2 separate regions of the Homo sapiens genome follow, and region 1 is linked to region 2. The links come from fine-mapping of genetic effects on gene expression. Tissue or cell type: prefrontal cortex. Region 2 holds a variant in brackets; the other region holds the start of a gene. All regions are shown on one strand. Distances are between the middles of the regions.

What was found. PIP is the estimated chance that this variant, and not a neighbour inherited with it, causes the effect.
Region 1: LINC01622 starts here. The variant in region 2 is fine-mapped to the expression of LINC01622 in prefrontal cortex (CommonMind, PIP 0.95).

Annotation. Positions count from the first base shown.
Region 1 is chr6:1,099,000-1,104,148 of GRCh38, reverse strand. It overlaps LINC01622 (long intergenic non-protein coding RNA 1622), which reads left to right and starts at 2,817. Exons shown (of 4, transcript NR_027116.2): 1 at 2,817-4,436. RefSeq lists enhancers at 1-60, 2,506-3,705.
Region 2 is chr6:1,303,706-1,308,854 of GRCh38, reverse strand. No RefSeq gene overlaps it. Among named protein-coding and RNA genes, the nearest start is that of FOXQ1, 5.8 kb to the left of the region's middle. The variant C/TC (reference allele first, on the strand shown) is at 2,832.

The DNA of each region.
Region 1 (5,149 bases), 200 kb after region 2:
TGTCACCAATCTTGGCTCTGAAACTAGCATGTTTTAAATTCCTGCTTCTCCAAGCCTCCTGGGCATGTGCTCTGTAGCCAAAAAGAGCTGGTAATTACACGTGGCTTCTGAGGAACGAGGGTCCAGGCGCTTATCTGGGAAGGGAGATTGGTCCAGACCTTCAGCCTCTGGGCCCCATTCCTCTTCTCATTCTTCAGCGTAGCAACTTGTTCTTAAAGCAGAGGCTGATTTCTGTCTGCATCTCTCAAGCGGCACCTTTGTTTAGCCACTAAGTTTTCTCAAACTGGAAATCCATATGACGAAGTATAATTTTATGGTCTCCTATCATATTTGGTTTTTCTAGAAACATTCAAGAGCTTGTTCCTTCTCACTTAGACAATATTACTGTCATCAAGGTGTGTCTTCTCCTAGTTCCAGAACCACTTCCTGAATTTAAAATGCTCTTCTGGACATTTTTTTTTTTTCCAGATAATGGCAAAGAAAATTGGTCCAAAGAAAGTGGAAAATTGTCAGAGGGCAGTCACCACAATTTTTTTTTCTTCTGTTTTCACATCTGTTCAATCAATATCAGCTCCTGGCCTCAAGGCAGTGTGACCTAGAGGCAAGAGCCCTAGGAAGCTGGGGATCAGAGGACAGCATCTCATGCTGCCTTTAACCAGGGGCACCGTCTCACAGCAAACCCTTAACCTCTCTGGGTCAGGGAGCTCCTTTTTCAACAAAACAGGTTGGTCTAGATGGGTTCTCCTGTGCTTTCCAACTCTCTACTTTCTATTATTCTGAACTTCATGCCTCATTGTATCTGTGCGCCTCTGGTAGAGTTGGCATAAACCCAAGCATATGTTATTGGCTTAGAGAAAGAAAACATTTCTGGGTCTGTGAAATCATAGGCTTTGCTTGACGAAGCTTCGAGGTGTGCGGGCTCTCTTAGTGCAGCGCAACAAGCCATCAGCCGGCAGAAAGCTATTTCTGTAGCGGAGTGTTAAAAGACTGGTATTCTTCAGTGAAGAATAATCTGCTGAGGGCAATGTGTTTTTATTCCCTCTGGGATTTATCTGTCAACGGGCAGATGGGAGAAGAAGCAATAAACTATGAGCTTGCATATGTCAAGGCTTTGATTCTAGGGGGTGACTTCCAGGCCCTGCTTGAGTAGGAGACATTGTCAGGGAAGAAAATTTTGGACTCTCACTGTTACTTCCTGATCTCAGAACACAAAGCCTAGTTTTTGCTGAGTCTTTGAGGAAACTCCATGAGCACTCGGCTTCTCTCTCGTGTTTTCTGAAACCAGAAGTAGAGAGAAAGAGGCAGCTGAGCCCTACAGAACCAACCAACTGTGGAGACCAGCAGCGAACCCAGCGTGTTTGTCATTGGTTTGTGAATCTTATACGCTGTTCTCTTTGGGATACCTATTTCTCCTGGGTCTTTACATGGTCCTGGATCAAGAAACACCTTTTAACAACTCCCTTCAGACCCTGCACTCCCGTGCATTCAGAGGCCTCCTTGGCTTAGCGTGGTGGCAACCCCAGGGTCCAGGTGATTCTGTTGAAGATCTGAGAACAGAGCTTGCTTCTTCCTGCCACCCAGTTTGATTGGACCTTCTCCAGACTTCTGGGTGCATTTCCAGAGCATTTACACAAGGAATTATGTAGGGGTCATTGTGACAATGGTTGTTTGTGGCTTCTTTGTATAAACCTTCTGTATAGAAATTCCAGTTGATCAAACAGATAAACGGAGAGGTGATCAGTCACATTGCTAGATGACTTTTCTCTACCTAGGAAAGGATTCTTTATATATTTAAATAGGAACTCCTGTCCCCATTTCTTCCTGGCTCTGCCTTGCTCTTATCTTGACTGGTCCAGACATTTCCTGGCATCCAGGGCATCAGGGAGGCTGTAAGTCTGTGTTTGATGGTAGCTGTCCTTCTTCAAACTGCTGGCTGGAAGGCAGCGGTCCCTGCTGGGTCCCAGAGAGCTAGGAGTGCAGCTTGGAGAAGTCGGCTCTCTCATCGTGAGTCTTCCAGAAGAGAATAGTAGAGGACAGCAAGGACAAAGGGCGTGACCAGGAGACACATGGCTTGGGGGAAAGAGCACTGGCATGTACATCAGGAGGCTGGACACCAATCTGCTTCTGCCACCAGTTCTCAGGGCAACTGTAGGCTAATGAGGTCACCTCTAGGGGCTTTCTGTTTCTTCCCCCGTGAACTGAATACTGAATGATTTCTAAGGCAACTCTCAGCACAAATATATTATGATGCTTTAGCGTGAGAGAGGTGGGATTTGATGTGGGGAGGGCAGAGCTGAAACAAGCATTTGAAACTGACACTTCGGGCCGTGGTCGTTTAGAGATCTGTTAGAAGGGAAGACAGACATCTTTAGAAATAGATATCAATGAAGGGGAACTCTACTTGATCTATTAAACATCATGAATGTCCATCTGGCCCACTACTGGATCTTGAGGTTTTTGAGGGCAGGGACTCAGCCTGGCTTACTCACTGCTAGGTCACTATCACTAAGAACTGCACCTGACATGATACCCTCAATAAACAATTATTAAATGAATGAATGAGATGACAGTGGTTGCCGTTGCTTCTGCTGTCAAACACAGACTCCATTTCCTGTTTTCCAGGGTCCTGCCTACCCATCTGAGGACATGTCTGCTCATCACCCATGTGCATTCTGTCACAGTGGGACCTGTGTGTGTTCCCTGCTCATTGTCGTTTCCATGGTTTTGCTGATTCTATGCGATTCTTCCAGGCCACTCCAAGTTCCACCTCTTCCACGAAGCCCTCCTTGATTGCTGGGCCCTGGTTGAACTCCTTATTAGTAACACCCAGGTTAGTCCTACTTAATTCTTACCTGCAGCCAAAGTGGACTTAGCATCTCCTTGCATGCCTGGTAAAGTCAAGGGTTTTCAGCCAGGGCCTGTGTATAAAGCAGAAGCAGCACAGAGTCTGGTTTGAAGCTTAGTGCTTGGGTTCAGACAGTTGTGGGTTACAATCCCTTCTACACATGTTCTCTGTGGAAACCATTTGGTTCTCTGTGCTTGGAACTCGCCTGCAACGGGACAAAGCCATCTCACCTAGACTGTTGTTATGAAGATTGAATTAGGTGATTCTGAGAGGCATTTATGCGTCCTCCCTGAGTAACAATCCATGAAAAGTGGGCGTCATTGCTGAAGCTCAAGGAAGAAATATGAAATTTGATTATATCCTTATTCACGGCATTGGGTCACCAACTCAGCACTTTTTATGAAAGTAGCATCTGACCTGGCAAAGGCTGTGTCATCTTATTACCTCAGAAAGACAAATTTACGGGGTCAGACGATGGATGGCTTGTAGATTTCTCAATGGGCTGGAAGGAAGGAGAGAAAAAGAGAGACAGGAGAGAGTACACATTTAATTCTGCTTCCCCTAGGGTGATATTTCCTTCCTCCCCTTCCAGGGTTCTCAAAAAGGCATTCTAGGAAGTCCTGTAAAATACATGCTCATAAAAATCTCATAATTTCCACAAATTGTTGAGAATTTAAAACTCGGTTGGGAGTTTGCTGTTTCAGCCTGAGACACCGGGGTCACGTTTCAGTGCCTGCAGTCTTGAGACAGTACCAGGCATCTGGGATGAAGCTGAGGAAAGAAGATGTGGGGGCCCTGCTGGCCTGCTCCTTCTCTCGAAAGACGCTTACCGGCTGCTGGTGTGTCACAGGGCTTTAGGATTTGGAAAAACAGAGGGATTTAAAAGAAGATAGAATGGTCAGAATTTCGAGAACTGTGTGCTGAAGTGCCATCTTTAGGGTGCTCATAACACGGCCTTACAACATTAGAGGTGCTGGAATCATGGAAGAGGCATCTGGACTCTGTAATGTCCTTCCCCCTGGAAAATCTGCTCCAGAAGTGGGGGATTGGGAGCTGTCAACATATGAGCCATCTTTTGCTCCGTTCAAGATGGTAGGGGCATTCTCAACATGCCCCTCACTCTGATTCTGCCTCACTTTTATTTTAGAATTTTCCACTGCCTTTTCTGGAATGTGCTTTTTCAACCCTCAAAATCTGTAGAGAAGAAATAAGCAGAAACCGAAATGGCTTTCTGGTGTTCTCCATGCTCTCAGCTTACTGGAAAATCGAGCCGCAGGCTCGAGGCTGGACTTTAAGGCAGAGCACTGCAATTATAGTGCTATGGCCTTGGCTTCCTTTCTCATCACCCAGGTACAGTCCTGCAGTCCTCAGAGGATGCCAGTCCCACACAGGGGGATCCTTCTCCATAGGAAAACCGAGGAACAATGCAGGTTCGAGGTGCACAGTGGCTAAGCACACTCAGTCCTCAAGATCTTTCCTCTCAAATGCTAATGCTACCTTCAGATGGGCTGCTGCCTGCTACCATTTCAACATTGAGTCCTTTAAGATGCCATCAGAGAGAGGGGAAGCAAGAGGCCAAGAAAAATGAAAGGTAAGCACAAGACCAGTAGAATGAGTGGGGAGATCTGTCTGTCTGTCTGTCTGTTTGTTTGTTTGAAGTGTCTTCTGCTTGACTGCAGTTACTGTTCTTCAAGTGAGGGCGAAGCGCTTCTCTTCTCCTCTCTGATAGCTCTGCAGCTCTCTAAGTAAACTCTTTGACAAACACATCGCAGCAGCGAGTGGAAACATGTCTGAGACGCTGCAGCATAGCCCGGCTGGTTCTGTTCTTAGCAGTATTTGCTAAGTTCCATCCATTAGAATGTTTTTAAACAATGGGACGCATGTCATCTTGATTTGACAGGATAATCCTGAGTTTATAGAATTTCATCACAGTGTGTGAAACTGGTTTTTAACTTCACTATACTGGCCCTCAGCGGTGGAGTCAACTGGGCACTGAATAGAAAAATCTCCCTCCTCCGTGTTGTCCCCAGCCCACCACATTTCGCCCTAAGCTCTGCCCTGCACCAACACCAGCCTTCTTCTGGAGTTTGGCAGCTGTGGCAACTGCTGGCTGTCTCTCAACCACTTCACAATATGTATCAATGTATTCTACAAATCATTGTATTTGCCAAGCATTCTACTACTACACAGTTCTGATTCAACTGACGTGTATCTTAGAGGTCAATATATTTTCTTTTTCCCTTAGCTTGGCTAGGACTCCATAGGAAACAGCTATTTGAGTGATGATATATAGGAGAAGGATAG
Region 2 (5,149 bases):
ATGTTGAGAGTCCCAGGGCAAAATGCATGGCTCTGAATCCTTGCAGAGTCTCCCTAGGGGCATGGAGAGGGCCCTGACTTGGGGCTCGAGGTCAGGTGGCAGTGAAGGGCCTCTACAGCGATAAAGCCCAGCTGCCTCTTTACCTTTCCTCATAGTGAAAATACATGGGAAGAAAAGGAGTGCTTTGTCCAACTCTGTTCTAGCCCATTTCATGGTCTGGTTGATTCTTTTGGTAGATGCTGAACACTGGAAAAATCCTGCAAGGATTGAAGGTGAGTGTGGAAGTAGACGGAGAAAACTTAGGCATTTTTACGTGTCTGTATTTTTGCTTCTTTCCAAAAATGTTTTAATAGGGTCAGGCTCATTTGTTTGTACATTTACCATGTTTGTTTGAACAGTCTTCTTTCGGTTTCTTGAGCAATGGGCATGGTTTAATCCAAGAATCTTAGAATTTGGCTGGGCATTACTGACCAGGTGCAAAACCAAGGGCTGTGCCTGAAGTTTTCTTTTGAGACCTCAGGAATTATAAGCAGCAAGAAAGCCACTGGGTACCCATTGAATTAAGTAGTTATTGGGAGGTGGGTCCTGGGGAGTGGAGAGAGGCAGGGAGGCAGGCCTGATAATGGTGGAAAAGAGAAAAAGAAGGATAAAAGGAGGAGCAAAGATGTGCAGATACAAAGCTAGATCATCTACAGTACGACGAAGGTTAGGGGTCATTGAGAATGCTGCCTGATTCTGTCACTCAGAGACGAAATCCTGCACACTCTAGCACCATGTGTGAAAATACCAATGTAGGAAGGAAAGGCCCGGGGCTGATTTGTTACAAGGTGACAGCTTAGATAGTGGGATCATGGAGTCCATTCTTCAGAACTGGCTAGATCTTAGGAACCTCATTGTCTAGTTTTAGTCCAGTTTTTCTATTACCTGAAGTTCTTTAAATTTTGAGTTTTACAAGCAGAACAAGGAGATTTAACTTCTGTTTGCAATGAGTGATCCAGTTCTCTCTTTTTAACTTTGAGGCTGTAACCATCCACAATAAATTAGTAATCAGACCTTTCCTGATATGTATCAAAGAAGGAGACTGTCTTTCTATGAAGAGAACTGACGCACATCCTTGGAGAGGGCTCCATCATCATACTGTCATACAAATCTGGGCAAAAGAGGGGCAAGTGCCAAATGAGATCCAGTTTGGATACATGAATATTAAGTTGTACAAAAAAAACAAGGTCTTTGCAGGGCTTCCTGTGGAGCTGGGGAAGGGTCTATGTCCCTTGTCTTGGCCAGTAGTCCCTCAAACCTGGATCCACAGTCTAGGTTTATGCATTTGGAGTGGATATGGCGGGGTTAACTCTCCCATTTAATTCCAGAGAAGGCATTACCACTCTAGGTAGGTGTGGGCTTTGGAGACAGATAACCTTGGGTTCGTATCTCTGCTCTACCAGGAAAGTTACCACACCTCACCTTTTTTAAATCTAGAAGAATAACAGTTATAGGGATTTTAAAAACTGAACTACTATGTTCTAGGCCCTTATTAAGTATTATTTATGTCTCTCCTTCCATTTCATACTTGGAAACTTATTTTGGAGGGGTATACTATCTTTGTAAGCCCAGATAGGCAAATTCTTCAGAATTAATCAACCAAGTAAACTTTCCGGGTAAAAACTGGAAAAGTGAAAAATAGTTCCTGGAGGAATGAGATATTTCTTGGGGTCATCTAATCCTAGTCTATGGCCAATACCTAGCCGGTGTTCCAGAAATAAAAAGGAAAGTCAGAACCCCTTGCTTCAATTGTGAACAAGCCCCTTATTCAAAATTTGAGCAGGAGTTGAGTGCACAGTTGGGTTGCTCAGAGTAAAACCCATACTAGTAAATCATGTAGGAACAATGTGAGGAGAATATCTATCTATCTATCTATCTATCTATCTATCTATCTATCTATTCATCCATCCACCTATATCGTTTTTATTAGGCAAGATTTCAAGTATGTATAAAAGTAAAGAGAAAGGCATAAAAAGTAGCGTTCATTGAGAAAAGTGTTCACTGATCCTGGGGTTGTTTATTGTTTGTAGGACATTTTTTGATTTTACCTGGGTCCCTATGCTGAATATCAGTCACATCAATGTAATTACTTATTTGCTTTGTCATTCCTCTGTGTGTGTGTGTGTGTGTGTGTATGTATCTCAATCTTTCTATTCCTATTTCAGAATCTCAATTCCTGTTTTATTACTAACAATGTGATAACTGAAAACAGTTTGAATTTTACTTGTGGGCTTTGTTTTTGTTTTTTGGCCCTTAGGGTGTATATTCCATCATCTACACAGTCAAATTACCAAATTTTAATGTAACTTGAGATAATTGTTCTCTAGTGATTAAGCCGTCAACTTGGTATTCAGTGTCTTAGTCCACTTTTTGCTGCTGTAACAGAATACCTAAGACTGAGTAATTGATAAAGAAAAGACATTTATTTCTTATAGTTCTGGAGACTGGGAAGTCCAAGTTCATGACATTAACATCTGGCAACAGTCATTCCATGATGGAAGGGTAGAAGGTGGAAGTGAGCACAAGGAGGGGAGGGAAGAAGGGGGCTAAAATTATCGGGAACCCATTCTCACAATAACAGCATTAATCCATTCATGAAGGCAGAGTCCTCATGGTCTACTTACTTCTTAAAGACCCCACCTCTTAACAGTATTTGCAATGGCAATTAAGTTTTCAAGAGAAAAACTTTGGGAGCACATTCAAACTATAGCCTTTAGTTAGCACCATCTGGTCCATTTCATTTTTTATTTCCTTCATTTGTTTAACAAGTAAGTAATATTGACTTTTTTTTT[C/TC]TTAAGAGACAGGATCTCTCTATGTTGCCCAGACTGGTCTCAAACTTCTAGGCTCAAGCTATCCTTCTATCTCAGCCTCTTGAGTAGCTGGGACAACAGGTATGTACCACTGTACCTGGCTTGAATATTGACCTGGTTTTAAAGTCAAAGGTATAATATGAAGCATATTCAAGGAAATTTAGTTTTTATCCATATTTTTTCCACCTTGCTCCTTCCTCCACCCTATAGGTAACCATTTGATAAAACTTTTAAAATTACCCTTTATATTAGTTTGCTAGGGCTGCCAAACAAAATATCACAGACTGGGTAGCTTAACCAACTGAAATTTATTTTCTTACGGTTCTGGAGGCTGAAAGCCCAAGATCAAGGTGTTGGCAGGGCTAGATTCATCTGGGATCTTTCTCCTTGGCTGGCTGTCCTCACATGGTCTTCCCTCTGTGCATGTGCACCTCTGGTGTCTCTCTGTGTATCCACATTTCCTCTTCTTATAAGGCTAGCAGTCAGATTGGATTGAGGCCCACCCTAAAGACCCCTCATTTTAATTTCATTACTTCTTTAAAGACCTTATCTCCAATCCAATACAGCACTGAGGTACTGGGGCTTAGGACTTCAACATATACATTTTGAGAGGACACAACTCAGCCCATAACATACTTCTATTTAAAATAACTAAGCCAACATGGATGTATTTATATATCCCTCCATGTAGGTAGTGTTAAAATTTTATATACAGTTAGTTCTATCTACTTTATTTTCTTAACTTTTCAAAAAATCCTGGAATTCACTCCATGGCAGTATATAGAGATATTCTTATTTGTAAGATAATATTTTGACTGTTAATTGAGCACAGAATTTTCTGACATTGAAGGAAATGTATTGATTTTTTCATTCAGCTTTATGAGTTCAAAGATGGTAGGAAAGATATATGAGCCATAAAAATGGACAACCATGTATGGTTGGAATGCCCTTGAGGTCCTCATGTGTGCTGTCCTCTGACTTCATGACCTTTCTTGTTACATGGCCTATTTCCCCATGTAAACCAGAGACAAGAATATACATAAGAACAGCTTGGCCCAGAGACATGCTGTGCATACATGAGGTAGGACAGTATTCTGACCTTATCAGAGGTCAGTGATGCTATCTGGGCATGGATATCACAATATCAAGACCTTGGCAAGTGGAAATGGAAGCCGTGTAGTGGGTGGTACATGTTGCATGGTACACAGAGGGTCTTTGTAAAATGATATGCCCAGTTGTTCATGAGAACATTTTGTAGTTTTATTTATTTTTTTAAAATTATATATTTCTTATTTTTGTAGATTTGGGGATACACGTGCAGTTTTGTTACATGGACGTATTTCGTAGTAGTGCAGTCTGGGCTTTTTGTGTAACCATCACTCAAATAGTGAACATCGTACCCATTAGGTAATTTTTCAGCCCTCACCTACTTCCCTCCCACCTTTCTGAGTTTCCAGTGTCTACTAATTTTACTATGTCTGGGCTGGGCACGGTGGCTCACGCCTGTAATCCCAGTACTTTGGGAGGCCGAGGCGGGCGGATCAGGAGGTCGGGCGGATCACGAGGTCGGGCGGATCACGAAGTCAGGCGATCGAGACCATCCTGGCTAACACGGTGAAACCCCGTCTCTACTAAAAATACAAAAAAAAAAATTAGCCAGGCGTGGTGGTGGGCGCCTGTAGTCCCAGCTACTCAGGAGGCTGGGGCAGGAGAATGGCATGAACCCAGGAGGTGGAGCTTGCAGTGAGCCGAGATCAGCCCACTGCACTCCAGCCTGGGTGACAGAGCAAGACTCCGTCTCAAAAAAAAAAAAAAATTTACTGTGTCTGTATGTACATATTAGTTAGCTCCCACTGGTGAGCAAGAACATGTGTTATTTGACTTTCTGCTTCTGAGTTATTTCATTTAAGATAATGGCCTCCAGTTCCATTCATGTTGCTGCAAAAGATGATTTCATTCATTTTTATGGCTAAGTAGTATTCCATGGTATGTATATACCACATTTTCTTTATCCAATCATACATTCGTGGACAATTATACTCTTTATCCAATCATGTATGATTGTCCATCAATGTATGATTGGATAAAGAAAATGTGGTATATACATACCATGGAATATGTATATACCACATATACATATAGGTTAGTTCTGTATCTTTCCTATTGTGAATAGTGCTGTGATAAACATATGAGTGCAGATATCTTTTTATATAATAATTTATTTTCTTTTAGGTAGATACCCAGTAGTGAGGTTGCTGGATGAAATGATAATTTGATTTTTAGTTCTTTGAAAAATCTCC